7 linked regions of the Homo sapiens genome follow. The protein of the gene in region 4 purifies or fractionates together with the protein of the main gene of each other region. This does not show direct contact. Each region holds a gene or a part of one and is shown on either strand. Other genes may lie near its edges.

Region 1 (4,212 bases), on a different chromosome or scaffold from region 4:
TTAAAATAATAATTCAAAATTATGTTCACTGATGAGATTTGAAGTCTATTACATCATGAATGTGATGGAAATTGTACACCTTTCATCAGAGACAATAAATAATATAGCTTTTAACAGCTTTATTTTTTTTAATTTATAATAGAGATAGGGTCTTGCTACGTTGCCCAGGCTTTTATCAAAACCCTAGGCTCCAGCAATTCTCCCTCCTTGGCTCCCAAAGTGCTGGGATTAAAGGCATGAGCCACCACACCAGGCCAGATTTTAACAGCTTTCTACAAATACAGATTTTTCTTTCATTTGACCAAATCCTTATCTAAGGAAGATACAGGGCTTAAATTCTGAAATAAAAACTATTTCTACTTGAATTGCGAAGATAAATATATTAACTCCAGGGAAAAATAAGCTGGTTCTAACTGGCATTTAGAACTAATTTAAAATCATTAACAATATCAGTAAATAAAATAATTCAATAAAAGCAATGATTTTAATAACAAAATCAGTAAATAATATAATGCTCAATTGTTTTTTTCTAGTAGTAGGATTAATGGTTTCCACTGTTGTCAAAAACTCACATGTATTTGGAAGAGGACCAGGTACAGTCACATCTTGGTATCTGAGGGGGACTCGATCCAGGACCCCATGGATACCAAAATCTGCAGATATCCCAGTTCCTTATGTATAATGGCATAGTACAGTCGGTCCTCTGTATCCATGGGTCCCACACAGGAGGATTCAACCAATCTTGCATCAAATATATTCGGAAAAAAAAATGGATGGTTGTAATGAACATGTACCTACTTTTCTTTCTTGTCATTATACCCTAAACAATACAGTATAACTATGTACATAACATTTATATCATATTAGGTTGGTGTAAAAGTAATTGTGTTTTTGCTATTACTTTTAATGGCAAAAGCTGTAATTACTTTTGCACCAACCTAATATTAAGTATTATAATTAATCTAGAGAAATAATTCAAAGTATACGGGAGAATGTGTGCAGGTTATATGTAAATACTACACCATCTTATATAAGTGACCTGTGCATCTATGGATTTTGGTATATTGGGGTCCTGGAATCAATCCCCCACTGATACCTGTATTTGCATATAACCTGCACACATTCTCCCATATATGTTATATAATCTCTAGATTACTTATTAATATAATACCTAATACAATGTAAAAGCTATGTAAATACTTATACTGTATTTATTCGTATTATTTGTATTGTTTTATTTTTTATTGGGTTTTCTTTCCAAATATTTTCTATCAACTGCTGGTTGAATCCAAGGATGCAGAATACACAGATAAGGGCTGACTATAATATGATAGATAAACAGCCTGTGACCACACAACAAAATATTAGCTTCATTTACCCCATGTTTCAGTCTAATACACCAAAATAAACCAACCACAAAAACAAACTGAAGTAGTAAATGTTTAAAATATATGTAATGTTTTGGTGTTTGTTTTTTGATACAGAGTCACACTCTGTCGCCCAGGCTGGAGTGCAGTGGCTCGGCTCACTGCAACCTCTGCCTCCCAAGTTCAAGCAATTCTCCTGCCTCAGCCTCCTGAGTAGCTGGGATTACAGGCATGCACCACTACTCCCAGCTAATTTTTGTATTTTTAGTAGACACGGGCTTTCGCCATGTTGGCCAGGCTGGTCTCGAACTCCTGACCTCAGGTGATCCGCCCACTTTGGCCTCCCAAAGTGCTGGGATTACAGATGTGAGCCACCGCGCCCAGCCTTAAAATACCTGTAATGTTTTAAAGTCGACTCTGGTTTTCCTAGCTGCCACAATGCTTACAATAACAGTATCTGGAATATTAGCCCATCCTAAAAGAGAAGTCTATAATAGATCTAATGTGATAATTATTAATAATTAACAATTACAATTTGTTAAGTGCCCACTATGGGCAAAATGCTATACACTACACAAAATGCTTTTCATTTAATTCTCACCATCACCCTGATGTGGAGGATAGCATAAGCTCCATTTTATGGATGACGAAACTGAATCTAAAAGAAGTTTAATAAACTGCTCAATTAGTAAATTAACGATAAAGTCAAGATTCAAAATCATGGTCACACAATTATAATGAATTTTGTCCATTCTGTCATGCTGCCTCTGGACATAAATGATGCTCTTTCAATTTCATAACATGGCAGTCACAAATATATTTCTGTCATCAGCAGGCTATTCTATGGTTCTGTGAGATACTAGTTTGGAGGAAAAAAAAGTTTTATCTTGATTAAAGAATACTGGGAGCTAGGCTGGGCGCAGTGGCTCACGCCTGTAATCCCAACACTTTGGGAGGCCAAGGCAGGTGGATTACTTGAGGTCAGGAGTTTGAGATCAGCCTGGCCAATATGGCGGAACCCTGTTTCTACTAAAAATACAAAAATTAGCCGGGCGTGGTGGCACACGCCTGTAATCCCAGCTACTCGGAAGGCAGGATAATCGCTTGAACCTGATAGGCGGAGGTTGCAGTGAGCCGAGATCGTGCCACAGCACTCCAGCCTGGAAGACAGAGCGAGACCCCATCTTAAAAAAAAAAACAAAACAGAATACTGGGAGTTAAAACTTCTTATAACAAAGTCGCTTATATTAAAAGAAATTAAGTAAATAAACCAAACGCAGTGACTCACGCCTGTAATCCCAGCACTTTGGGAGGCCGAGGCAGGAGGATCACTTGAGGCCAGGAGTTCAAGACTAGCCTGAGCAACACGGTGAAATCCCGTCTCTACTAAAAATACAAAAAAGTTAGCTGGGCATGCTAGTTGGCACCTGTAATCCCAGCTACTTGAGAGGCTGAGGCAGGAGAATTGCTTGAACCCAGGAGGCGGAGGTTGCAGTAAGCCAAGATTGCACCATTGCACTCTATCCTGGGCGACAGAGCAGGACTCTGTCTCAAAAAAAAAAAAAAAAAAAAACAAAAAACAAATCTACACTTCGGGAGGCTGAGGCAGGCAGATCACGAGGTCAGGAGTTCAATACCAGCCTGGCCAATATGGTGAAACCCCATCTCTACTAAAAATACAAAAAACTAGCCAGGTGTGGTGGCGTGTGCCTGTAGTCCCAGCTATTCGGGAGGCTAAAGCAGGAGAATTACTTGAACCCACAAGGCGGAGGTTGCAGTGAGCCAAGATTGAGCCACTGCACTCCAGCCTGGGCAACAGAGGAGACACCGTCTAAAAAAAAAAAAAAAAAACCTACAACAAAAATTAGCCAGGCATAGTGGCATGCCCCTGTAGTCCCAGCTACTCGGTAGCCTGACGCAGGACAATTGCTTGAACCTGGGAGGTGGAGATTTCAGTGAGCCGAGATTGTGCCACTGCACTCCAGCCTGGGCATCTTTAAATAAAATAAATTAAGTAAATAAACCTTCACAAATTATCTACATGATAAAATCAAAATGTACCTGAGATGTACATATGCACAAGTGACTAGACGAAAGTATCACTATTACTTTTCCAAAGTCAAAGGTAACCAAGGCCAATCTTAAATAAAGTTACAAATTTAGCTGATTTCTGTGTCCCTGGTTGCCCCAGCTTTGCCTTTATTCAGAGCTAAGCAGTATTCTACAGTTTTTCCCTCTTCTTCCCTAATTAAACTAGAAATGTTCCAAATTAACTATAATTCACCTTAATATAATCAAGTTACCATAATTAAGATTTTGCTGTCCTACTCAGGTAATTGAAGACTTTGATCTTGGTTAAAAGAACGTAAGATAGCCTGAGCACGGTAGCTCATGCCTGTAATCCCAACACTTTGGGAGGACTGCCTGAGTTTAGGAGTTTAACAAGACCCTGTCTCTACCCCCCAAAAAAAAAACTGGCCAGGCGTGGTGGCTCACGCCTGGAATCCCAGAACTTTGGGAGGCCAGGGTGGATGGATCACCTGAGACCAGGAGTTCAAGACCAGCCTGACCAAAATGGTGAAACCTCATCTCTACTAAAAATGCAAAAATTAGCGGGGTGTGGTAGTGCACACCTGTAATCCCAGCTACTAGGGAGGATGAGGCAGGAGAATCACCTGAACCCAGGAAGTGGAGGTTGCGGTGAGCTAAAATTGTGCCATTGTACTCCAGCCTGGGCAACGAGAACGAAACTCTGTCTCAAAAACAAAACAAAACAAAACAAAACTGGGCAGCCTGTAGTCCCAGCAACTGGAGAGGCTGAGGCAGAAGGATCACCTGAGCCCAG
Region 2 (4,212 bases), on a different chromosome or scaffold from region 4:
CTCACTGCAACCTCCACCTCCCGGGCTCAAGTGATTCTCCTGCCTCAGCCTCCCAAGTAGCTGGGACTACAGGTGTGCACCACCACACCTAGCTAATTTTTTGTATTTCAGTAGAGATGGGGTTTTACCATGTTGTCCAGGGTGGTCTTGAACTCCTGAGCTCAGGCAATCCCCCCGCCCCAGCATCCCAAAGTGCTGGGATTACAGGTGTGAGCCACTGCACCCGGCCCTCACGTGAATACTCTAAATTGGGAACCGTGAGTATACTTTCTTCTCCAGATGAGGAAACTGGGCACACAGAGGTTAGTGATGTGCCTGAATGCAGGAAGCTTGTAGGGGTGGGGCTGGGATGCCAGGGCATGGGAGGGAAGAGTTGGCCAGCTGTGGCAATACTCACGGAGTCCTTCAGTGCCAGAAAACAGTGGCAGATCCAGCGGCGGGTAGTCCCGTCACGACAGATATAGGAGAAAGCCTTGTCCAGGTTGCGGTCAGGAGCACAAAAGGAGACCTTTTCGATGGTCTGGTCGACCAGAAGATCCTAGGAGGGGCCGGGGAGGCCAGGAGAAGAGTGTGAACTCTCTTTCAAGTGTTCACTCAACATTCTCTCTGTGTCTGCTGAAATCCAGTCCTGAACAGGGTGGGGACCCAGCAGTCACTGAGACACCCTGTGCCTTGCCTGCAGAGGGCTCCCAGGTCAGCGGGAAGATCAGACCCATCACGAGATGGGCAGCCCAGAGTCATAGCCAGGATGTGATGAAGGAGGCCCAGGCAGAGGGGTCAGGGCCAGGACCATGGAGGCACAGGCAGAGGGGTCAGGGCCAGCATGGCAGAAGCCAGCTTGGGGTCAGTCAGGCAAGGCTTCCTGGAGCAGGTACTAACTAAGAAAAAAAGTCAAGGAACAGTATTTTGGGCTGAGGGAACTGCCTTGCAAAGGTGGTGATCTTGTTCTGTTATTAACCCAACTCTCAGCATGTCCTGGGCACCTCCTAGGGCAGTCTCTGGGCTGGGGGCAGCAGATTCAAGGTGAGCAAACAGATACCTAGATTGTGGCCTCATAGTGCTTCCTTCTGACTGGGCAGGGTGACAATAAACACTTAATGGCTAACATTCATTGATCTGAGCAGTTACGATGTACTAGACCCCATTTAAATATATATATATATTTTTTTCCCAGAAGGAGTCTTGCTCTGTCACCCAGGCTAGAGTGCAGTGGCATGATCTTGGCTTACTGAAACCTCTGCCTCCTGGGTTCAAGTGATTCTCCTACCTAAGCCTCCCAAGTAGCTGGGATTACAGGCACGCACCACCACGTCTGGCTAATTTTTGTATTTTTAGTAGAGGTGGGGTTTCACCATCTTGGCCAGGCTAGTCTCGAACTCGTGACCTCAGGTGATCCAACTGCCCTGGCCTCCCAAAGTGCTGGGATTACAGGCGTGAGCCACCGTGCCCAGCCCACATTTAAATTTTTTTAAAAATTATTTTGTATAGATGGAGCCTTGCTATGTTTCACAGGCTGATCTTGAACTCCTGGCTTCAAGGGGCCCTCCCAGCCAGGCACCATTTCAAATAACTTGCATATGCTTTCTCACTTAATGGTAGGGTCTATTATAATCCCTGTTTTTCTGCGATGGAGTTTAGCTCTTGTTGCCCAGGCTGGAGTGCAATGGCATGATCTCCGCTCACCGCAACCTCCAAGTCTCGGGTTCAAGAGATTCTCCTGCCTCAGCCTCCCAAGTAGCTAGGATTACAGGTACACACCACCATGTCCAGCTAATTTTTGTATTTTTAGTGAGATGAGGTTTCACCATATTGCCAGGCTGGTCTCGAACTCCTGACCTCAGGTAATCTACCCTCCTTGGCCTCCCAAAGTACTGGGATTACAGGCGTGAGCCACCACTCCCGGCCTATAATCTGCATTTTTCAGATGACACAACTGAGACTCAGAGAGGTTAAATCTCATGCCCAGGGTCCCTAAGCTGGGATCGGAGCTGAGGCAGCTGCTCCAGTCTCTCTCACCCACAGCCTATGCCAGTTCCCAAATAATCACAGCATTTATTCCTGAGTTATGACGACAGAGGGAGCACACGGCATCGTCTAGAAGGTCCCTGAGGGAGGGATGTGCAGAGGAGGCGGGAAGGTGTCCTCCGCCCTGATTCCAGCAGGGTGAGCAGACAGGCCCCCTGGCGTCCACCCCCACAGGCCTCCTACCTTGGTTTTGTCGTCCACCACTCGGAGCCCATCGGCTGACACCCACAGGACAGACTTCACGGACTTTCGGCCCATCTGGAGGGAGGCAAGGGGACAAAGGAGCCGGGTCAGGGTGCCTCTCCCTGTCTGACCTTGCCCCCTCCCTCATGGCAGCCCCCTCACTCACCGCCTTCAGCTTCTTCACCGCATCTTCACACACGTGCATTCCCCGGGACTCCTCTACCTCCACGTGACCCAGGTACTTGGGTTGGAGGGAATGGGGGGGGGGACATGAAACAGCACAGTAATCACTCATTCTCAGTGTCCACTGAGCATCTGCCATGCAGTAGACAATATTTTAAGCACATGATGTGTATGCAATCATTTATTCTGCATCTCAACTCTACAAGGTGGAGACCCCATTCCTGGTCTAGACATGCAGATGGGGAAACTGAAGCACAGCACGTAGTAGTGATTCCAGTCTAGCTATACCCCTGGGCCCTAACCCGGCACCGTGGTCCTCCCGAGAGCTAGTATTTGCATCTCTGTGCGTGAGGACTGGCCACAGGCCATGCAAAGCTGCTTTGCCTACCCTAAAGCAGCTAGAAAGAGCCTGGGCCAGTCCCCACAATGACTGAAGGGAGTTAGGGTACCTGAGCCCCAGCTCCCTCATCTGCAGGTGGGATGACTGTTGCCTCGAGTTTCCCAGGGGAAAGCTCAGTTGCACACTGCTGCAGTTTTAATAACACACCCTTTACTGGCTGCCTTACTTTCCTCACTCCCAACACCATTTCCTGCACCTCCCAAATGAAGCCGTCACATTCAAAGTCTGCTTCCAGGGAAGGGAACGTAAGGTGGTGGAGGGGCTGTGACCATGGTCAGTCATCACCCAGCCAGGAAGGGGCTGAGCTCCACAGTCCACGCCGTGAATCCTGCTCTCCCCCTCACAGGAATGTAAAAGCGTAGGGTATGGCTAAACCAGAACGTCCTTATCGGTAGAGCGCTTTGCAAATGCTACACCACATGACGGCTTCCAGGTAATAGTTTGCTGGTACAAAAAAATGTGTTCTGGTTTTTTGTTTGTTTTCAAGATTGGGTATCACTCTGTTGCCTAGGCTGGAGTGCAATGGCACAATTAAGGCTCACTGCAGCCTCGACCTTCCTGGACTCGAGTGAGCCTCCCACCTCAGCCTTGTGAGTAGCTGGGACTACAGGTGCGTGCCACTGTGCCTATTTTTTGTAGAGACAGGGTCTCCCTGTGTTTGCCCAGGCTGGTCTTGAACTCCTTGACTCAAGCAATCCTCCCACCACAGCCTCCCAGTGTGCTGGAATTACAGGTGTTAGCCACCACTACGCTTCAAGTTTTTTTTTTTTTTTTTTTGAAACAGAGTCTGCTCTGTCGCCCAGGCTGGAGTGCAATGGCGCTATCTCGGCTCACTGCAATCTCCGCCTCCCGGGTTCAAGCGATTCTCCTGTCTCAGCCTCCCCAGTAGCTGGGACTACAGGCGCCCGCCACCACGCGAGGCTAATTTGTTGTATTTCTAGTAGAGCCGGGGTTTCACCGTGATAGCCAGGACTGCCGGCCTCACGCTTTTTAACACCAACTTCAAACGACTTGGGCTGGTGTCCCAGCCAGGCCGCGCACCCGCACAGCACAGCACAGCGGCCCCCGTCCCCCTCGCCCCGCCGCACCCTGCCGCGCCCACTCACCCTGACCGGGAAGCTGCACGTGCCCTTCCGCACCGCGTCCTCGTCTGCCTGCCACTGGTGCGGGCGCGACGCCTCGGGCACGTAGGCTGGCTTCCTCCGCCGCAGGCTCTGCCGTAACTTGTTCATGGTGCCCGCCCCGTCTGGTGACACAGGACAGTGATGTGGGTCAAGGGTGGGGGTCAGAAGGTATGGAGCTCAACGGGGAGGGACCAGTGCTCAGGGAGCATGGGGTCAGATAACAAGATAACTGGAAGCGGGGTTACAGGGTCAGTTGGCAGCGCACATGGGATCAGCAGCTCAAGTCAGGGGACAGTG
Region 3 (3,761 bases), on a different chromosome or scaffold from region 4:
AAAAAAAAAAAAAAAAAAGAACTTCGTATATGTTATCTATTCCAATCCTTACAACTCTTTGAGATGGGTACAATTCTTATTCCTATTTTACAAACAAGAAAATTGAGGTACAGAAAGTCACATGTGAATAAGGGGCAGAATGTTTCTGAATCTAGACAGCCTCTGTGCCCTTCACTGCTGCACTATACCCTCAAAACACTGGGGATGGGCTTGAGGTTATTTAAAATGTATGAAATTCCTTCAAACACTTTTACTTAGCCAGGTGTGGTGGCATGCACCTGTGATTCCAGCTACTCAAGAGGCTGAGATAGGAGGATCTCTTGAGCCCAGGAGTTAGAGCTACAGTGAAATATAATTGTGCCACTGCACTCCAGTCTGGGCAGGCAACAGAGCAACATCCTCTTAAAAAAAAAAAAAAAAGTCTTACTGATCCTGAGCAAAACCCTCAAACAGAAGACAGACGTCTGGAGCTGCTTTCAAGATAGCACAGCACACTTCACTTGAGGAAGTAGCAACAGCTTTATTAATTTCGCTTTTTTATTAATTTCTTGTTGAGACAGAGTGTCGCTCTGTTCCCCAGGCTGGAGTACAATGGTGTGATCTTGGCTCACTGCAACCTCCCGTTCTGTGGGGGTTCAAGTAATTCCTGTGCCTCAGCCACCCAAGTAGCTGGGATTATAGGTATGTACCACCACACCTGGCTAATTTTTGTACTTTTAGTAGAGATGGGGTTTCACCATGTTGGCCAGGCTGGTCTTGAACTCCCGGCCTCAAGTGATCTGCCTGCCTTGGCCTCCCAAAATGTTGGGATTCTAGGTGTGAGCCACCAGGCCCAGCTCTAATTTAGTATTTTTTAAAAACTGTGGTAAAATACAGAAAAATATAAAATTTACCATCTCAGTCATTTTTAAATATACAGTTCAGCGGCATTACGTATCTTTATAATGTTGTGCAATTATCACCACCATTGACCCCTGTAACTACATCTTGCAAAACTGAAACTCTATACCCTAAACAGTAACTTCCCATTTCTGCCTCCCCAAGTCTGACAACCACCATCTTATTTTCTGCCTGTATAATTTTGATTATTTTAAGTAATTCAAATAAGTAGAATCTTACAGTATCTATCCTTTTAACTTTATTTTATTCATTTTTTTTTTTTTAGACACAGGATCTTGCTCTGTTGCCCAGGTTAGAGTGCAGTAGTGCATTCATAGCTCACTGCAGCCTTAACGCCTCAGCTCAAGTGATCCTCCTACCTTAGTCTCCCAAGTAGCTGGGACTACAGGCATATGTCACCTCACCTGGCTAATTTTTAAATTTTTTGTAGAGACAGGATCTCACTATGTTGCCCAGGCTGGTCTCCAAACTCCTGGCCTTTGACAAGCCTACCACCTTTGCCTCACAAAGCATTAGGACGTATTTGTCCTTTTGTGACTGACATTTCATTTAGCATGAAGTCCTAGAGGTTCATCCATGTTGTAGATATACCAGAATCGACTTAGTATTTTGACCACTCACTTTGTTAAAAACACTCACTTGACCATGAGCCAAGAAGCTCCTTTTAACCATTCTTAATGTCTTAGAAACAGATGCTCTGACAACACTCAGTAGATCAGAGTTAAGCTTGGACTCTGGATCGGCACAGATCTGAGTTTAAATCTTGGTTTTGCCTCGTACTATAACCTCGGAAGTTTTAGTTAACTTTTCAGAACCTCGGTTTCCATATCTGTAACAGAAAAAAAAAATACTGCTTCTCTCATAGTGTTATAAAAAAAATTTACTGAGATGATGGACTAAGGCATTTACGAGCATTATCTGACACCTGGGAGAGGGTGAGGCTCATATAAGCGCACAATAAATTACAAGTATTATTATTGTCCCCTTCTGTGGTCAACCACCTGTTGTTTCTGCCATTACATCATCTTCTGGAGAAAGCTCCCTAGTTTTCCTTGAGAACAACTTTTCCTCCATTGCATATAATCCCTGTGAAACTACCTATTACTGGCCAAGGAATGGTAGCAGGACCTCAGATAGCCCAACAGATACTTGCTCCTCAGAATCTGAACCTTGAGCAGAGTCATCCAAAACTGAGGGGAAAACACGGAGAAATTAACAACAACAAAACGGCTGTAGTTCATGTGTCGCCATCAAAGAACTCAGACAAGATTGGCCATTAGCTCCTGTAGCTAGTTCCTGTCTTTTCCAAAACCTGTTTTTTTTTTGGCTTTTTGGTAGATGCTGTGGCTCTCTTATGGCCTCCAATAAACATAAGTGAGGCAGAGTTGGTTTCTATTGTTTGCAACCAACGAACTTAATGGATTCTGTATTAGAAAGAACTGGTATATTTCTTTAAGCAAAGACTAGGACTCTATGGGGCTCAACAAACTCTGTAATCGCCTTTCCACTCCCCTGGACAAAATAAATATATTGTCTACTGCTGAAACGCAAATTATCCCCAAACCAAGTAGCTTTAAACAATAAACGTTTACTATCTCACAGTTCATGTGTGTCTGACGTTCCGGAGCAGCTTCTCTGAGTGGTTCTGGCTTAGGGTCTCCCATAGAGGTCACAAGCGAGATCAGCTAGGATTGCGGTCATGTGAATGCTTGGCTGGAATTGAAGGACCAGCTTTCAAGATTGCACACTCCCATGGCTATTGGTGGGAGGCCTCGATCCCTTGTCATGTGGAGCACTCCATAAGGCTGCTTGAGTATTTTCATGACCTGGAAGCTGGCTTCCCCCAAAGTAAGCGATCAAAGAAAACAAGACAGAAGCCACGATGTATTTTATGACTTACCCTCAGAAGTCAAACTCTCATTTCTTCAATAGTGTAGTGGTTACACAAGTCAGGCCTATTCAATGTGGGAAGGAACCACACAAGGGTGTGAATAGAAGAAGGCAGGGATGGTTGGGGGCCAACTTAGAGGCTGGCTGCCATGCAGGGGAAGCCTAGAAGCCTGGTAGGGGTTCATGTACCCTGCCACCATCCTCCTTTCACTTGCTATTCCTCTTCACTGAAGACCCCAAGAAGCATATCTCATTTCAGAAACCAGCAGAGATGATGACTTATAAGTCATGGAGGAAGGACGAGGTGGATTTGAAGAGAAAGCCACAAAATAGGAAGGGTGAAGGTCTCCAGTCCAAGGACCAGGTCTGGAAGACTGGAAAAACGGAACAGATGACGTTTAGGGAAGGGAGACACAGGCTGCCCCAAGGTTCAAGAATAAAGGGTAGCATAAGACAAGAGTGCTTACCCTTGGCAGTGGAGTCACACTTCTCCTTTTACAACCCCAAAGAAAGTCTGGTGTCCAGTTCAGCCCTGCTTGTGTCACGTATCCTTTGCTGCTCTGAGTCCTTGGGGCCTGAGAACTGGGACCCATGAGTCCTGCTGCCCAGCTGCTACGGGCTGAATTCTGTCCCCCTAAATTCTTACGTTGAGAAACCCCTGGAACCTCAGAATGAGACTGTACTTGGAGATTGAGCATTTAAAGAGGTGATTAACTTAAATGAGGCTGGTTAAAGTTAAAATCCAGTCCAACTGGTGTTCTTAGAAGAGGAACGTTGGGCACATAATGAAACTTAGAGATGTGTGTGCATGGAGGGAAGACCGCACAAGGACACAGTGAGAAGACAGCTGTCTGCAAGCCAACAAAAGAGGCCTCTAGGAAAAACCAGGCCTGCTGACACCTTGATCTTGAACTTCTAGCCTCCAAATGTGAGAAAATAAATCTCTGTTGTTTAAACCACCTGGTTCTGTG
Region 4 (4,212 bases):
ATTAATGATATAAACTTCCTGGAGTTGCTAATCAACACAGACATGATTCTATGTGTCAACATGTATGAGTAACATAAACAGCATATCTTCGAGGTGCCGTATTTTATCTGGAAGAAGTATAATTGAAGACATCACCTATTAAGACCAAACAAGACCAAGATAAAATATGACACAAGGAGAACAGGCCCACAAAAGGCCTCTGTCCTTCCTTACTGACCCTATTCTACATTTAAACATTGTAAGACTTTTTAAAAGATTCAGTGGGTATTACAGAAGATTTGTTAAAGCCTCTTAGTGAGCAGACCTGAGGTTATCAGGCTAGCCCTAAGGCCTCATTTGGAAGACAGGGACCAGGAGGCAAGAACATCTGGTGGTCATGTTCAAAAATTTTTCCAAATGTTTGAAGGCATAATTAGACTTTGTTAGAGTGTTCGCTTTTGGCCTGAAGGGCATTTGACTAAGACCTGGCTTATTTGGAGAAAAAGAAAACAAAGGGATTAATACTGGAAGAGTTATTCATGCTGAAAATGTGTAAGAATTTTCAATCAAATTTAATATAAGTGCTGCTGTATCAACATAAGAGCATGCTAATTCTGGTGCACACATGGAAAATATGGACTGGCAAACTACTGGATTTCATGTGTACACATTTCCTGATTTAGAAGGAAATGTTCAGGCAGCTGAAATCTTGGTTGTCTTCTTAGTGGTGACCGATCACTAAACTGAAATGTCTAGGTATATCCCACTAGCATCAAGGAAGGAGTTACAGATGTCAGGGTACTAAGGCAAAATCTAAACAAAATGAATAAACAATCTTTTGCCTGAAACCATTTACATAAAGACATTGAGAGAGTTGTTATTATGTGAAAGACTGGGGTTACAAGATTTATAGTCTATTCTTTATCATAGCCAAGATCTTCTTAAATTTCAGTGAATGGCTAGTGACATCATGCACAGAACAATAGGGCATTGGAGCTTCAATATAACATCTCTAGTACACAGTCACCAGAAATGTTGCCATTCAGGTTTTGTGTTGAGTCAGAATGTTGGCCATTGTTCATTGGTATATAATAGTCATGGAAAAATAGAATACCTTAAAATTTTTTAGCTAAAATACATACTCCAAGGAGGTGGAGGGACAAGAGTACAGTGAACTTATTCCACCCCATTATCTCCCACACTCTCACCACTACCAACCCCTCATGGGCTTTGAAACAAAAAGGACATTAATACATCAAAAGGGCAAGTATGGATGGTAGACACTTTGCTAAAAATGGCTTACAGTGAAGCTGCTCACTGCAGAGAACTCCACGACCCTAGAGAAGCAGCCTCCAAAGGACAACATAGGCAAAAACAACAGTGTTTTGCTTTTCTAGTAAGTTAGCAAAGGCTGACTTCATGAGATAGTAAGATGGTGATGACAAAAATCTTGTCTCTTACTGGGATGAAGGGAAAAGAACCACTCTGAATATTTAACCTTATTTACTGATTGTTATATTACAGAGGGTTTTTCATACTCAGGCCTCTGGGGGGCATGTGTCAAAGCATCTTTTTTTAAATAATATATGGGAAATGTTTGAATATATGTTTTTTTGTTTGGTTGGGGTTTTTTTTGGTTTTTTGAGACGGAGCCTTGCTCTGTTGCCCAAGCTGGAGTGCAATGGCACCATCTCAGCTCACTGCAACCTCCACCTTCTGGGTTCAAGCGATTCTCCTGCCTCAGCCTCCCGTGAATATATGTTTTATATATTAATAGTCAGGTATATAATAATGAAGGGTGCCTTTGTATGTCAGCGTTGAGAGAGTAGACATCTCTGTGGGAAGAAGGGTTTTTGTGGGAAACGTGAATTCAAAGCAATAAGACAGACAGCCAGTCCACCAATGCATGCATGAGCCCATATCTTCTTTAGTCCCAAAGGGAGGAATTATAACCAACCTGTTATGAGGCTGATGATTACTCCAGCAACAATGCATCCTAAGCAGCCCACTGCACTGTAGTAAAGGTAGGAGATCGAGTACCAGGTATCAGCTATTCCAGGTCTGTGGAGAACAGCACATGTCACCAATTCCATGCATCCTAAAGACCCACAGTGATGTAGAGGACTGCTCAGGATTCATTTTAGGGCCTGGCATCTCAAAAGCCTAAATCATAACTTTTTGTCATTTAAAAAATTATATTTAGAGAAGATGTGCTTTGTATTCCACTCAATTCAATTCATTCCTGAATTACAAATATAACGATGTTGATACTGAATCATAAGTATTACAATGAGGATTGTGTCTTAATACAAATAATACAATTTCATTTGTATTATTTATTCTTCAGACTTTTATTAAGCCCAGATTTAGTGCTAGTAATTGTGACAAGCATTAGTGATATAAAGATGAGAAAGTCACAAAGTCTACATACAGGAGCTAATAGACAATCATAAAATGGGTTGGTTTTGCCTCAGTAGAAAAGGTATAAAATACTATGGCAGCCTTCAGAGTAGTATCAAATTCAGACCAATGCGTGAGATGATACCTCAGCTCATTTTGAAAGAATAATTAGTAGTTAATCAAGCAAAGAGGGTAGTCAGGGCCAGGAATTAGCATTCTAAGAAGAGAATACAGTAAGTATAGGCAGGAGGGAAGAATCAACATGGTTTATGGGGAACCATGAATAGGTTGAAATTCTTCGATATAAAATTTATGGAAAGAAAATGAAACTCAAAGACAAATGGAAGCAAAATAATGGAGTGCCCATTTGGAACCTGAGTCAAAATGAACTTTATGGAGGAATAGGAGACACTAGTATGGCTCTTGAAAGATAAACAGATTTTAGGAGAGTGGAAATGAACACTAAAATATATTCATGTAAAGGGAATAGCTTAAGGACCCAAATGTAGGAAAGAGTGGGATAAGCATAGGTAGACGAGAAGAAACAGAATTCAGAGTAGAAGGAAAACAATAGTTAATAACATTAAAACCACAGGAAAGTTTTAAGTTTGGCAGGTATTTAGCTCCAGGATAAAAAGGTTGTGTTTTATTCCATAAGCACATGAATCATTTAAGTCATCTCCATGTGGTAGTAATGAGTTCAGAAAGGTGCTTCAGAAAAAATAAATCTAGTGATGCTTGGATAGAATGGGTTGTATTAGAAAGGAAAAGAGATAGAAAAATGGAGGAAATAAAAAATACAAATAAGATAATTTCACTTTTCTGGACTTTGTAAAGACAAGACTAGCCTCAAGATTGACAAGGACAATGGAGAGGAGAAGATATGCCGGACCGAGAGAGACTTTCATGAATGCAATTTGCCACATTATCTGGCCAGTTTGAGAAGCCTGGACTCAGAGGGAATGAGCCAGTATGGGGAGATATTGATGATAATCAGAAAAGGGCTACTAAAAATGAAGTACTTTTGAGGATACACAAATAACACAAATCCTATATTTTCTAGACTTGCTCTTACATACAATTAGAATGTGAGAGTGAACATTTATTAAAGTCACGTGTAGTGCTACTTTATATATATGTATATATATTCATATATATATATGTATATATATTCATATATATATGTATATATATTCATATATATATGTATATATATTCATATATATATGTATATATATTCATATATATATATATATTTCCTCATTTTTCCATCAAGGGCTCTGAGAATTCAAGAAGTTACAACTTACTAACTTGTCCAAAGATACAGAGGGAATAAATTATAAAACCAAAATCCAAACCCAAATATTTCAGATTTCAAAGTCCACAATCGTCTCTCTACACCATAGTATCTGATGTATTTTGATATATTTGATCACTTACCCCAGCCAGAAGTACAAAGGGAAATCCTTTGTTAAACCCTGTGTTCATATTGTTTGGTTTAGAAGCCATAGGTTCACAGCGGTGCTCCTAACTCAGCTTGCCCATAAGCATTATCCTCATTGCTCACAAACTTCTTCTACTGAGTTTTATTCTTTGAGGAAACCATGTTCCTCATACCCAGTCACCTGTCTTTGAACCCTCCACTATTTTTTCTCTTTTGTACTCATATCTCGCATTAACTCTTTCACCAAATTGGTTTTTGTATGTCTGAATACAGAGGAATGGACATCTGCAGAAAGCTGCAGCCCTGCGTGGCACTCTTCAGTGCTGGGTACTTCCCTGAGTGAGTCTCATAAGAGAACAAGATATGTCTCATCACACTTATCTCTGAAG
Region 5 (4,933 bases), about 41 Mb from region 4:
GCACTAGGAAAAGCAAGGGCTTTGGACCCAAGCCGATGGGGATTGCATCCGGCTGGATGACCTCAGGCAGGCACCGCACCTCTCTGTGCCTGTTTCCTCAATGGGGTGTGGCAATGGGAATGAGATGGGAGACAAGCCCGAGGTCACCCTCAGACACACAGTGGGGGCCTCTTTTAGCCAGAGACAAGGCTCCTGTGACCTCTGCTCTTCCCCCGCTTCGTCCTCCATCCATCTCTTTCTGGGAAAGGGAGGGTGCCATCGGTCAGCCAGGGCAGTGGATGCTCAAGGAAAGAATAAGGGAAGTAGCCGGTGCCCCAGAGCCGCTGGCCTAAGGGAACGGGGGTACATTCCACCTGTGGAACGGGATGGGGTGGGTCTGGAGAGGCCAGTCTGGGCTCCTTGTCACAGGCGCTGGCTAGAGAAAGAGAGAGGCCTGTGAATGGATCTCCAGGCCTTCGAGGGAGATGGTGGAGAAAAGAAGGCAAGGTGCAAGGGACTCACTGGCCATGGCCCCCTTTCAAATTGTAATAAGAAAGCTCAGCAGAATGCACAGGTGTTTACCCTGAAAAATGGGACTCCTGGGTCTTCCACTCGCTCCATAAACACTGCTATTTTCTGGATGGGCACGGTGGCTCACAACTGTAATCCCAGCACTCTGGGAGGCTAAGGCAGGAGGATTGCTTGAGCCCGGGAGTTCAAGAGCAGCCTGGCCAACATGGTGAAACCCTATCTCTACTAAAAATACAAAAAAAATAGCAGGGTATGGTAGCAGGCACCTGTAATCCCAGCGAATTGGGAGGCTGAGGCAGGAGAATTGCTTGAACACGGGAGGCAGAAGTTGCAGTGAGCCGAGATCGCGCCATTGCACTATAGGCTGGGAGACAGAGCGAGACTCCATCTCAAAACAAAACAAAAAACACACCAGCCTGGGCGACAGAGCAAGAGACCCCATCTCTACAAAAAGTAAAAGAAAAATTAGCCAGGCGTGGTGGTGTGTGTCTGTAGTCCCAGCTACTTGGGAGGCTGAGGCAGGAGGATCCCTTGAGCCTAGGAGGTCGAGCCTGTAGTGAGCCATGATCATGGCACTACATTCTAGCCCGGTAGTGACAGACCTTGCCTCAAAAAAAAAAAAAAAAACCACCCCAACACCTGCTGTTGTTTTCTTTACATTGTTAACCAAGAGCATGAAATTTAGGCCGGGCATGGTGTCTCACGCCTGTAATCCCAGCACTTTGGGAGGCCGAGGCGGGCGGATCACGAGGTCGGGAAATCGAGACCATCCTGGCTAACATGGTGAAACCCCGTCTCTACTAAACATACAAAAAATTAGCCGGGCGTGGTAGTATAAGCCTGTAGTCCCAGCTACTGGGGTGAATTTCTTGAACCTGGGAGGGCGGAGGTTGCAGTGGGCCGAGATCGCGCCACTGCACTCCAGCCTGGGTGACAAAAACTCCGTCTCAAAAAAAAAAAAAAAAAAAAAAAAAGAGCATTAACTTTGATAACTTAAAAAGAGTCACGTGAACATATCCACTGTCCGTGTAGATTCTACATTTATTTGTTGGGGGCGGTAATGGGGCCCCTTGGAGGTGTGCGTTCCGTCGGGGGCCGGGAAGGCGGGGCCTCACCCAATCCTGGAGACTCCTGCGGATGCCATTATGAGGAGCAAGAACGCGAAGGGGCCTCGGGTCCGCTGTAAGGCTGCACCCGCACCTGCGGCGCCTCTGCGGCGGCCGCCGTCGGCCCTGCCCCGCCCCGCCCCCTTCTTCCGGAGGAGCTGCGGTGGGGGCGCTCCACCGGGTCCTAGGAAAGGGGCTCTCTCTGGCCCCGTCCCCGGCGGCCCCGCTCCCGGCCCCCCGGCGCCGCTCAGCCTCCCGCCCAGCCCCTCCGCGCGTGACCTCGGCCCCGCCCCCGCGAGCCCCTGCCCCGCCCCCGCTCCGGGTCCCTCTGTCACTTCCTGAATCCTGCTTCCTGCTTCCCAGAGGCCGGGATCCGGAGCCGCCCGAAGCCGGTGCCGCAGCCCCCTGCGCCCCCGGTGCCCCCGGTGAGCGCGGCAGGGCCGGGGCTAGGGGCGCGGGCTGGGGGCTGGGCGGGGCTGCAGGGGCCGGGCTGAGGGGGCTGAGGGGGGATCGCGGGTCCCAGGAGCCTTTCGCCTCCCCTCTACCCCACTCAGTCCCACTCCCCTTGGCCGCCCAGCCTCTCCTCTCCTGGGCGGAGGTCCCTGGAAGTTGGGCTCCTGGTTCACCCTGGACCCCGATTCGAGGCCGCTCTGGGTTGCTTCGCGGCCCACAGCTGCGTCCCGACCCCGTCCCTTCCTGGGGGCCATGCCGGGGCTCCCTGGACATTCCCTGGGACTCAGAACTGGGCACTCACTCGGCCCCACAGTAGAGAGACTTTTCCTGCTTCCTCTCTCCTTCTTCCCCATTACCTAGCCTCCAAATCTCTGGGAGCAGGAAGGAGGCTGCTCCCGACTGGCTGGGACCTACAGTAGAGCTGAGAGCTCTCCAACCCCGGCACCTCCCACCTCCTGCCCCCGACACACACCAGAGCCAGGGAGGGGCCCTGCGTCCTGCAAAGCCCCTCAGGACTCAGCAGTGGTCAGGGCCGGAGCATTTACCTCTCAGATCACTGCCTGCGGGGTGACAGGCGGCCAGGCTCTGCACCTGTGACCCCATTCTGTAACTGGGTAAACCGAGACCCAGGAGGGTTACGGTGGCCTGGCCCCCGGTTGCATCCTCCCGGCTCACCTTCAGCAGCCTGGGGAGGGCTGGAGTTGTTGGGATGGGCCGGACTGACCCAGGCCTCTCTGTCCCGCAGACATGTCCTTCCGCAAAGTGGTCCGGCAGAGCAAATTCCGGCATGTGTTCGGGCAGCCGGTCAAGAACGACCAGTGCTATGAGGACATTCGCGTGTCCCGTGTTACCTGGGACAGCACCTTCTGCGCCGTCAACCCCAAGTTCCTGGCGGTGATTGTGGAGGCCAGTGGAGGGGGTGCCTTTCTGGTGCTCCCCCTAAGCAAGGTGGGTCCTGTCAGGGTTGGGGGAAGAGGAGGCACCTCGGCCACCCCTACTGGGCCTTTCTGCACACCTTGAATCCCTCATCTTGCCGTTTCTCACACTGCTGGGCAGGTGTTATAACCCAGATTTATCGCCCCAAGTGTTAGCACAGATGGAAAGTAGCCTGTTGCCATAGAGGCAGGGTTAGAGGCAGCAAACATTTCCTGCTCACCTGGCAAGTGGGGCACAGTCACATCTGGGCCACCTGTGAGCCGGGACGTGCATGTCATTCCCACTCCATGGAGGGGAAGACCAAGGCTTCGGGAGGGATGGAGCCCACTGACTGCCCCCTCGTGCCCACAGACGGGCCGCATTGACAAGGCCTACCCGACGGTGTGTGGGCACACGGGACCTGTCCTGGACATCGACTGGTGTCCTCACAACGACGAAGTCATAGCCAGCGGCTCGGAGGACTGCACGGTCATGGTGAGGCACAGGACTGGCTGGGCCAGGGTCGTGGGTGTGGCCGAAGGGGGCCAGCAATAGGACCAGCAGAGGACTGAGCTCGGTGGCCCTGTCCCTACCACAGGTGTGGCAGATCCCAGAGAACGGGCTGACCTCCCCGCTGACAGAGCCGGTGGTGGTACTGGAGGGGCACACCAAGCGAGTGGGCATCATCGCCTGGCACCCCACGGCCCGAAACGTGCTGCTCAGTGCAGGTCTGCACCGCCCCCCGTTTTGTGCTCCCCCCCCCCACGGACCCCTCCATACATCCCAGCAGCCCCTCCAGGGCCCACATGACAAATGGGAAAGCTGAGGCCCTCAGAGTTGGAGAGACCCGTCTGTCCCAGGGTGGTGGGCAGAGTGGGCCTCAGCCTGGTGAGCTAATGGCCTCCTGCCACCCACCCGGCCCGAGCTGACAACCCTCACCTGCCAGGCTGCGACAACGTGGTACTCATCTGGAATGTGGGCACAGCGGAGGAGCTGTACCGCCTGGACAGCCTGCACCCTGACCTCATCTACAATGTCAGCTGGAACCACAATGGCAGCCTGTTTTGCTCAGCATGCAAGGACAAGAGCGTGCGCATCATCGACCCCCGTCGGGGCACCCTGGTGGCAGTACGTGGCTCTGGAGGGCAAGGATGGCTGTGGATAGGCCCAGGACCTTGAGCAGGGCGCTGCACTGACCAGCCTGTCCCCCCGACAGGAGCGGGAGAAGGCTCATGAGGGGGCCCGGCCCATGCGGGCCATCTTCCTGGCAGATGGCAAGGTGTTCACCACAGGCTTCAGCCGAATGAGCGAGCGGCAGCTGGCGCTCTGGGACCCAGTGAGTGGCCAGCCTGAGGGGGCAAACTTGAGACTTGGGCCCCACCCTGGGCCAGGCAGGCAGGGTTCACCCTGGGGAGGCCTGTGGTTCCTAGCTTCTCTGCCTGGAACTTGAGGCTCTCAGGGCCTAGGACTCTGTCAGACTTTCCTCTCCTGCCCCCTGCTCGCCCGACTGCCCCACCACTCCCCCATGGCCTCCCACTGCCTCTGTGTCTTTGCCCATGTTGTTCATGCCAACGGAAGGGCCCTTCTCTCCCTTGCTTGCCTGTACCACCCACTGCCTGCACAGGGCTCCCCGCTCCTCCAGAAAGCCTCCTCCTCCAGCAAGCCTCCTGGCCCCAGCCCTCTCTGCTTCTGCATAGTGACCTCCAGGGCACCTTGAGCAGGGGCTGGTGCCGCTGGCACCCCAGCTCCCCACAGTGAGGTATGTTTCAGCACTTGCTTAGTGGCCTGGGCATAGTCTTAAGGCCTGGAGGAGGCTGGAAAAGAGGGACCCTGGGAATAAAGTGAAGCCAGGAGGGCCAGGTGGGGGTCGTCATGTGGGAAAAGGCATAGAGATGGCAGAGGGCCCACCTGCATTTAGGGGCAGTGCTGGCTGGCCTTAGTGAGGCCAG
Region 6 (4,212 bases), on a different chromosome or scaffold from region 4:
TCCTAATCTTAAGGACACCCATCAAATTGTTTTAGGGTCTACGCTAAAGACCTCATTTTAACTTAATCACATATTTAAAGGCCCTACATACATATGCAGTCACATTCTGAGTACTGGGTGGCTAGTGTTTCAACCTATGAATTTTGGGGAAAACAAATTTAAAAGTAAGGGATGAGAGCACAGAATCCTGTCATGTCTTCTCAGTCACAAAACAGATTTTGGCTATAAATCTCTATTAATGAAATAGCCACTGAAGGTTTCTGAGTTAGTGGAGTGATGTGATGAGCCTTAGATTTTAAAGAACTACTTTGGCTGCTAACCTGAGAACAAATGGTAGCAATATAACAGTAATGGCAGATGATTTAGGAGGTGTCTTGGTTTTCCACTGCTGCTATAACAAATTACCACAAACTTAGTGGCTTAAAACAACACAAATTTACGGCCGGGTGCAGTGGCTCACACCTGTAATCCCAGCACTTTGGGAGGCTGAGGCGGGTGGATCACGAGGTCAGGAGTGCAAGACCTGCCTGGCCAAGATGGTGAAACCCCATCTCTACTAAAAATACAAAAATTAGCCGGGCATGGTGGTGGGCGCCTGTGATCCCAACTACTCGGGAGGCTGAGGCAGAGAACTGCTTGAACCCAGGAGGCGGAGGCTGCAGTGAGCCAAGATTGTGCCACTGCACTCCAGCCTGGGTGACAGAGCAAGACTCTGTCTCAAAACAAAAAACAGCTCTCCCTCTCCCCCTCCCCCTCCCCCTCTCCCTCTCCACGGTCTCCCTCTGATGCCGAGCCAAGGCTGGACTGTACTGCTGCCATCTCGACTCACTGCAACCTCCCTGCCTGATTCTCCTGCTTCAGCCTGCCAAGTGCCTGGGATTGCAGGCGCGCGCCGCCACGCCTGACTGGTTTTCGTATTTTTTGGTGGAGACGGGGTTTCACCGTGTTGGCCGGGCTGGTCTCCAGTTCCTGACCATGAGTGATCTGCCAGCCTCGGCCTCCCGAGGTGCCAGGATTGCAGACGGAGTGTCGCTCACTCAGTGCTCAATGTTGCCCAGGCTGGAGTGCAGTGGCGTGATCTCGGCTCGCTACAACCTCCACCTCCCAGCCGCCTGCCTTGACCTCCCAAAAGTGCTGAGATTGCAGCCTCTGCCCAGCCGCCACCCCGTCTAGGAAGTGAGGAGTGTCTTTGCCTGGCCGCCCATCGTCTGGGATGTGAGGAACTCCTCTGCCCGGCCGCCCAGTCTGGGAAGTGAGGAGCGCCTCTTCCCGGCCGTCATCCCGTCTAGGAAGTGAGGAGCGTCTCTGCCCGGCTGCCCATCGTCTGGGATGTGGGGAGCGCCTCTGCCCCGCCGCCCCGTCTGAGATGTGAAGAGCGCCTCTGCCCGGCCGCGACGCCGTCTGGGAACTGAGGAGTGTCTCTGCCCCGCCGCCATCCCGTCTGGGAGGTGAGGAGCCTCTCTGACCAGCCGCCCTCTCTGAGAAGTGAGGAGCCCCTCCGCCCAGCAGCCGCCCTGTCTGGGAAGTGAGGAGCCCCTCTGCCCAGCCGCCACCCCGTCTGGGAGGTGTACCCAATAGCTCATTGAGAACGGGCCATGATGACGATGGCAGTTTTGTCGAATAGAAGTGGGGGAAATGTGGGGAAAGGAAGGAGAGATCGGATTGTTACTGTGTCTGTGTAGAAAGAGGTGGACATAGGAGACTCCATTTTGTTCTGTAGTAAGAGAAATTCTTCTGCCTTGGAATGCTGTTTATCTATGACCTTACCCCCAACCCCATGCTCTCTGAAACATGTGCTGTGTCCACTAAGGGTTAAATGGATTAAGGGCGGTGCAAGATGTGCTTTGTTAAACAGATGCTTGAAGGCAGCATACTCGTTAAGAGTCATCACCACTCCCTAATCTCAAGTACCCAGGGACACAAACACTGCGGAAGGCGGCAGGGCCCTCTGCCTAGGAAAACCAGAGACCTTTGTTCACATGTTTATCCGCTGACCTTCCCTCCACTATTGTCCTATGACCCTGCCAAATCCCCCTCTCCGAAGAACACCCAAGAATGATTAATAAATACTAACAAAAAAAAAAAAAGTTATAATCTTACGGTTCTGTAAATTAGAAGACCAAAGTCAGTCTCTCCGGGCTAAAATCAAGGTGTGCACAAGGCTGGTTCCTTCTAGAAGCTCTGAGGGAAGACTGTCTTTTCCAGCCTCTACAGGCCACCTGCATTCCTTGGCTCGTGGACGCACACCCCTTCCTAGCATCACTCCAATCTCTTCCTTCCATCATCACATCTCCTACTACCTACCCTGATCCTCCTGCCTCTCTAAGGACCCTTGTGATTATATTGGGCCCACCTAGATAATCCAGAATAATCTACCCATCCTTAACCATATCTGCAACGTCTCTTTTACCTCAAAAGGTAACACATTCACAGGTTCCAGGAATTAAGACATGGACATCTTGTGGCAGACAGCAGGGGAGAGGATTATTCAGCCTATAATAGGAGGCTACTCTAGCAATCCAGACAAGAGACAGTGGTGGTGACTTGGAACAAAGTGGTAGCAGTAATCCTGGAGAGAAGTAGTGGAATACTGGATGTATTTTAAAGGCTGATGGGATTCAAGATAGAGTGGGTTTGGGAAATGAAAGAACAAAAATTGACTCAAAATATTTGGTAGGAGTAACTGGAAGGAAGAAAGGGTGTTTATAAAGCCTTTCCCTGTGAGTCTATCAGTCTCAGATCAAGAAGTGTTAAGGATCTTACAAGTCCCCAGAAATGCACTAACTTGAGAGAGAAGAATAAGCTTTAACCTAGTCTACAAGCCAAGATATCTCAACAGGAAGCCATCAGCAGACCAGAGATTTAAATTCCACAAACATCTGAGTAAACATCTACTACATTCTAGTTACTGTGCGTAGCATAGAACACAAGCACACAGTGTGCACCGTATAATAAGGGATGTTTGAAAAGAAAGATGAATGTTGATTGAAGCATTAAGGAAATGCTTTGCTGAAAAAGTGAGATAAGAGGTTGGACTTGGGAGTAAAGAATGGCATCCGGCTGAGCGCGGTGGCTCACGCCTGTAATCCCAACACTTTGGGAGGCCAAGGTGGGAGGATCACTTGAGCCCAGGAGTTCAAGATCAGCTTGGGCAACATGGCAACACCCTGTCTCTACAAAAATTTAAAAAATTAGCCAAGCATGATGGCACATGCCTATAGTCCCAGCTGAGGCTGGAAGATGACTTGAGACCAGGAGGTCAAAGCTGCAGTGAGCTGTGATTGCACCACCGTACTCCAGCCTGGGTGACGGAGCAAGACTTGGTCTCAAAAAAAAAAAAAAAAAAAAAATTAGTTAAGAATGGCATCCAACCAGAACAACTACATAAATGTATGTGCAGAAGTGGAAATTAAGCTAGCTAGTGCTGATGTCAGGGGCTGCAGGATTTCCACTCAAGTACCTCCAACAGCAGAGAATGAATGAATGCACTGTTTTCGAGTATTGCCTACCACAAGCTTGAGCCCTCTTTCGAGTGTCATGGTTTACTACTGTTACATAGGTCTTTCTCCACCTTGTGTATACTTTGATCTTGGCTCACCACAACCTCCGCTTCCTGGGTTCAAGCGATTCTACTGCCTCAGCCTCCCAAGTAGCTGGCATTAGCTGCGCCTCCACACCCAGCTAATTTTTGTATTTTTAGCAAGGCGGAGTTTCACCATGTTGGCCAGGCTGGTCTCGAACTCCTGACCTCAAGATCTATCTGCCTTGGCCTCCCAAAGTGCTGGGATTACAGGCGTGTGCCACCGCGCCCGGCCCGTAAATTATTTTTTAAAGTCAAAAACAGTATAACCTATGTATCCCCTCACTGGTTCTTTTTCCCAGTTCTGTAATACCTTGAATTCACTTCAAAAGTGATTTCTTAGGCCAGGTGCGGTGGCTCATGCCTGTAATCGCAGCACTTTAGGAGGCCAAGGCGGGCAGATCAATTAAGGCCAGGAGTTTGAGACCAGCCTAGCCAACATGGTAAAACCCCATCTCTACTAAAAATAAAAAAATTATCTGGGTATGGTGGCACATGCCTGTAATCCCAGCTACTCAGGAGGCTGAGGCAGGAGAATCGCTTGGACTCAGGAGGCAGAGGTTGCAGTGAGCCGAGATTGCACCACTGCACTCCAGCCTGGGTGACAGAGTGAAACTCATCTCAAAAAAAAA
Region 7 (4,212 bases), on a different chromosome or scaffold from region 4:
TGGGCTAGAATCTAAACTCTGACAATGACCCTGGGTCCCTGTCAGTCAGACCAAGAACCTTCCTCTGGGCTTCTATGAATCTCTCTCCAAAAGGGTGCATTACCCAAGTACCTGTAAACATATTACAGGTTTCTGAGATGGGTCTCAGGAGATCCTAGGGGCCAGAATGAAAGTCAGATAACATAATTATATTTCAAGTTCAGATGAGGAAATTCAAATTAATCACAGAGCCTAATTAAAATCCACCATTAAGATAAGGTGGCTTTGTTCATTAGGGTCTTTGTGGCAAAAGAGGAAATGTGAAGACACTGGAGCATCAGAGTACTTGCCCCGAGGCTCACACCTGAACATTCCGAACCAAACAAGGCTTCTGGTTTACAGCAAAGCTGCCTTTATTGCCTGGGCTTGCAATCCCAGAGTGATTGCTTGGACACTAGATAGCAGAAGGTTTCACATATATTCACTGATTTTTCCTGTAGCATGTGTTAGAGACCTGAAATGGCATCTAAATTTGAGAAACATTCCAGGCAAACTCTCATTCTGGCTACTGGACCCAGATGTGAACCAGATTGGAATTTCCACCTCAAACTCCAGTTTCTGCAATTCTATGTAACATGGCTTCTACCCCAACTATATTTACATAAAACTCTGAACTGGGAGAGCAGGGTCCTGTATTTTTAGTGGCATCATTTCCTTTGCTGCCCTGCCTGAATCCACTTAAATTTGACTATGGGGTTAAGAAATGACAAACATCAAACACAGAGCTACTTACTCTTCTATTTCTTTTCTTTGGTTCTCTACTCTCATATATCCATTTCGATTTCCTAAAAATGTGAACCCGTACCTATCAAAAACAATAAAAAAGACCTTGTGTATCTCTAAAGAATGATTAATTTTTTTATTATTATTTTTTTTGAGACAGAGTCTCGCTCTGTTGCCCAGGCTGGAGTGCAGTGGCGCGATCTCGGCTCACTGCAACCTTCACCTCCCAGTTTCAAGCGATTCTCCTGCCTCAACCTCCTGAGTAGCTGAGATTACAGGTGTGTGTCACCACACCCGGCTGATTTTTGTATTTTTAGTAGAGACAGAGTTTCACCATGTTGGCCAGGCTGGTCTTGAACTCCTGACCTCAGGTGATCCACCCGCCTTGGCCTCCCAAAGTGCTGGGATTACAGGCGTGAGCCACCGCACCTGGTCTAGAATGATTACTTTCAATGGGGTAACTCATGCTTGTTTATGCTTTTCTTCTCTTTCATATGATCTCAACATATAACTGTACTTTCTTTTCCTGGATAAGTTGATAACAGAGAAAGTCAATGCCCAGCCACAATTATTGTAACCAAGGGAGAGACAATTTGGGTTTCTGATTCTACGGCTAACACACTGGGTGACCTTTGAGCCACTTAATTATCTTGAACCTCATGGGTAAAACTGGACTTTCGGTTCTCAAATGATGTCAAAATTGCTGGGAGCACCTCAGAAATAACATGTGTTGTACAAAAAGTGGCCACTGTTATGTTATTTGCAAAACATAGTATGAACATTCAGACTTCTGGCTGGCATGCATAAATAGTAAGGCAAGTAATACCTACCTGTAACTATTTTCTTTTTAGTCTTAACTGGTTAGGTGTGGGAATTTTCCACAAATTTTTGGCTAAAGCAGTTGTGTTTTTTATTAAATAATAGGAGATGTATGTGCTAAGGTCACTGAAGCAAACGGAAAAAAACAAATAACTTCTGTCCTCCTGTGATTTCACTTTCTTAGGAGAAGTATAAGAAAGTATACTTTACCTTTTAGCTCCTTTCACCAAAGCTATTTCATCTGGTGAAGAGGAGATATAGGTTAATTCAGCTGATTCTGTAGCTCCATCAACAGCATCGTTTGTTTTGATTTCTACAGTATGACATAAACACAAGGCACGTAGAAACAGCTCTTCTCGATTCTGTGGAACAGCAACAAAATAATGATTATTATTTTTAATTTGATCACCCGGTAACTAGGCAGTGAACGGAGAAAATATATTAATGTGAGAGAATGTTGTAACTTCTAACAAACTTAGTAGCAGATACGTATAAATTCTTAACACTCAAATCTGCTATATATTCTCCTAGTACCTAATAAGAGTTCCTGGTTCTCAGCTAGCATACCCTATAGGCTGTGTTAACTCATTAAGGTTATTGTGGCACCACCTAAGCCAAAGCAGTGACTTCTTCATGGCCTAAAAAACTTCATTCAGTATCTAATTCACAATCTAGCAATAGCTCAAGTGTAGGGAGACTCTGGTTAATTTAATGCCTAGACACTCCTGAGACTTTAATCATTTGAACAGACATCATTCTTGGAGGAGCTTACATTTTAAAAGACAAAGCACAAAAAATTATGATCATACAGACAAGCAAGCTTTTACCCAAATGTCATTTCCCACAATTCTCTTTACTTGTAAATTCTACTCATTTACAAATTTCAGAAGTGTCAGTAAAACAAGAAAGGTGAATCCAACAATAGTTATTCTAAAGTCACTGGGCACAGTGGCTCATGCCTGTAATCCCAGCACTTTGGGGGACGGAGGGTGGTGGATTACCTGAGGTCAGGAGTTTGAGACCAGCCTGACCAACATGGTGAAACTCCGTTTCTACTAAAAATACAAAAAAATTAGCCAGGCATGGTGGCAGGCGCCTGTAATCCCAGCTACTCGGGAGGCTGAGGCAGGAGAATCGCTTGAACCTGGGAAGCGGAGGTTGCAGTGAGCTGAGATCATGCCACCGTACTCCAGCCTGGGCAACAGAGTGAGACTCCATCTCAAAAAAAAAAAACAAAAACACAAAAGTCTATGTCATGTGTCCACCTAAAAATTATTTTCTACTATGGAATGTTAACATGCATACACAGATTGGTTTCTTATATAAAACAATAATGCAAATGCACCTTATCTACTTTGTCAAAATATGTTAAAGTTCCATCAGTTTGAGATAATCCATCAACCTCTTGAGTTACACCTTTATATTTGTGGCCATCTATGCAGCATTCAATGAATTCCATGCTGTTTTCAGTGAGTGTTCCAGTCTTATCTGTAAATACATAATCCACCTAAAACAAGGACACAAACATATATTGTTAGTTTCTTCAGTGTGACTAATTTTTAGTTTGCTGTAACGCAAAGCTATTTTCATATCCATAGGAAATCACCCCTTCTAAGACTTCTTGTCAAATGTCAGGGAATTACAGAGACAATATTACCAAAGAAATGAGGAATAAATGAGTATTTTTAAAGACACCAAAATGCTATCACATGTCTAAGGTAGATCTACTCAAATGTAAAAGATGAATAGAAAAAAATGTGACTATTGGCCAGGCACGGTGGCTTATGCCTGTAGTCCCAGCACTTTGGGAGGCTGAGGCAGGAGGATTGCTTGAGCTCAGGAGTTCAAGACCAGCCTGGCCAACATGGTGAAACCCCGTCTCTACTAGAAATACAAAAATTAGCTGGGTGTGGTGGCACACACCTGAAATCCCAGCTACTTGGGAGGCTGAGGCACAAGAATTGCTTGAATCCAGGAGACAAAGGTTGCAGTGAGCTGAGATCACATCACTATACTCCAACCTGGGTGATAGAGTGAGACTCTGTCTCAGGAAAAAAAAAAAAAAGTGACTATTTTATCAAACTAAGAACGCTTCTCATTTAAGTTAACCTTTTTTAAGATAGGGTCTCACTCTGTCACTCAGGCTGGAATGCAGTAGCCATTATAGCTCACTATAACCTCAAACTTCTTGGCTCAAGCAATCCTCCCACCTCAGCCTCCCAAGTAGCTGGGACCACAGGCACGCACCACCACACCAGGCTAATTATTCTGTAATTTTTGTAGAGACAGCATCTCACTATGTTGCCCAGGCTGGTCCCATACTCCTGGGCTCAAGCCTTGGCCTCCCAAAGTGTTGGGATTATAGGCATGAGCCACCATGCCCAGCCAGTTAACCTGTTTGATGTAAAGAAGTTACATAAGTCAATTTTTCAAGTGGGAAGTAAGACTATACTGACCACTTATTTCTCTCTCTCTCTCTCACTCACACACACACACACACACACACACACACACACTCTTACACTTTGTGGGCTAGTACGTACATTACCCATTAAAAATTTTTTCCCAATAAATTAAATGGGATGTAACAAAATAAAACAGAAACTGATGAAGGTTTTTTTCCCCTTTTAA

The links.
Region 1: the proteins of SLC5A12 (region 4) and NUMB purify together in Homo sapiens (affinity purification with mass spectrometry; one large-scale study listed by BioGRID and IntAct). This does not show direct contact.
Region 2: the proteins of SLC5A12 (region 4) and NUMBL purify together in Homo sapiens (affinity purification with mass spectrometry; one large-scale study listed by BioGRID and IntAct). This does not show direct contact.
Region 3: the proteins of SLC5A12 (region 4) and EARS2 purify together in Homo sapiens (affinity purification with mass spectrometry; one large-scale study listed by BioGRID and IntAct). This does not show direct contact.
Region 5: the proteins of SLC5A12 (region 4) and CORO1B purify together in Homo sapiens (affinity purification with mass spectrometry; one large-scale study listed by BioGRID and IntAct). This does not show direct contact.
Region 6: the proteins of SLC5A12 (region 4) and PCYOX1 purify together in Homo sapiens (affinity purification with mass spectrometry; one large-scale study listed by BioGRID and IntAct). This does not show direct contact.
Region 7: the proteins of SLC5A12 (region 4) and ATP11C purify together in Homo sapiens (affinity purification with mass spectrometry; one large-scale study listed by BioGRID and IntAct). This does not show direct contact.

The regions. Positions count from the first base shown.
Region 1 is NC_000014.9:73,448,235-73,452,446, forward strand, and holds part of NUMB (protein numb homolog), read right to left. Parts: intron 1-4,212. UniProt on the Homo sapiens protein: Regulates clathrin-mediated receptor endocytosis. Plays a role in the process of neurogenesis.
Region 2 is NC_000019.10:40,680,520-40,684,731, forward strand, and holds part of NUMBL (numb-like protein), read right to left. Parts: intron 4,038-4,212; coding exon 3,898-4,037; intron 2,450-3,897; coding exon 2,375-2,449; intron 2,284-2,374; coding exon 2,209-2,283; intron 539-2,208; coding exon 398-538; intron 1-397. UniProt on the Homo sapiens protein: Plays a role in the process of neurogenesis. Required throughout embryonic neurogenesis to maintain neural progenitor cells, also called radial glial cells (RGCs), by allowing their daughter cells to choose progenitor over neuronal cell fate.
Region 3 is NC_000016.10:23,520,254-23,524,014, forward strand, and holds the end of EARS2 (nondiscriminating glutamyl-tRNA synthetase EARS2, mitochondrial), read right to left. Parts: 3' UTR 1,548-3,761; coding exon of another isoform or gene 1,540-1,547; 3' UTR 501-1,539; downstream 1-500. UniProt on the Homo sapiens protein: Non-discriminating glutamyl-tRNA synthetase that catalyzes aminoacylation of both mitochondrial tRNA(Glu) and tRNA(Gln) and participates in RNA aminoacylation for mitochondrial protein translation.
Region 4 is NC_000011.10:26,676,776-26,680,987, forward strand, and holds part of SLC5A12 (sodium-coupled monocarboxylate transporter 2), read right to left. Parts: intron 2,041-4,212; coding exon 1,937-2,040; intron 1-1,936. UniProt on the Homo sapiens protein: Acts as an electroneutral and low-affinity sodium (Na(+))-dependent sodium-coupled solute transporter.
Region 5 is NC_000011.10:67,440,512-67,445,444, reverse strand, and holds the start of CORO1B (coronin-1B), read left to right. Parts: upstream 1-1,968; 5' UTR 1,969-2,041; intron 2,042-2,814; 5' UTR 2,815-2,816; coding exon 2,817-3,017; intron 3,018-3,356; coding exon 3,357-3,479; intron 3,480-3,582; coding exon 3,583-3,712; intron 3,713-3,930; coding exon 3,931-4,112; intron 4,113-4,200; coding exon 4,201-4,320; intron 4,321-4,933. UniProt on the Homo sapiens protein: Regulates leading edge dynamics and cell motility in fibroblasts. May be involved in cytokinesis and signal transduction.
Region 6 is NC_000002.12:70,264,337-70,268,548, reverse strand, and holds part of PCYOX1 (prenylcysteine oxidase 1 precursor), read right to left. Parts: intron 1-4,212. UniProt on the Homo sapiens protein: Prenylcysteine oxidase that cleaves the thioether bond of prenyl-L-cysteines, such as farnesylcysteine and geranylgeranylcysteine. Only active against free prenylcysteines and not prenylcysteine residues within prenylated proteins or peptides.
Region 7 is NC_000023.11:139,786,401-139,790,612, forward strand, and holds part of ATP11C (phospholipid-transporting ATPase IG), read right to left. Parts: intron 3,089-4,212; coding exon 2,927-3,088; intron 1,944-2,926; coding exon 1,792-1,943; intron 845-1,791; coding exon 773-844; intron 1-772. UniProt on the Homo sapiens protein: Catalytic component of a P4-ATPase flippase complex which catalyzes the hydrolysis of ATP coupled to the transport of aminophospholipids, phosphatidylserines (PS) and phosphatidylethanolamines (PE), from the outer to the inner leaflet of the plasma membrane.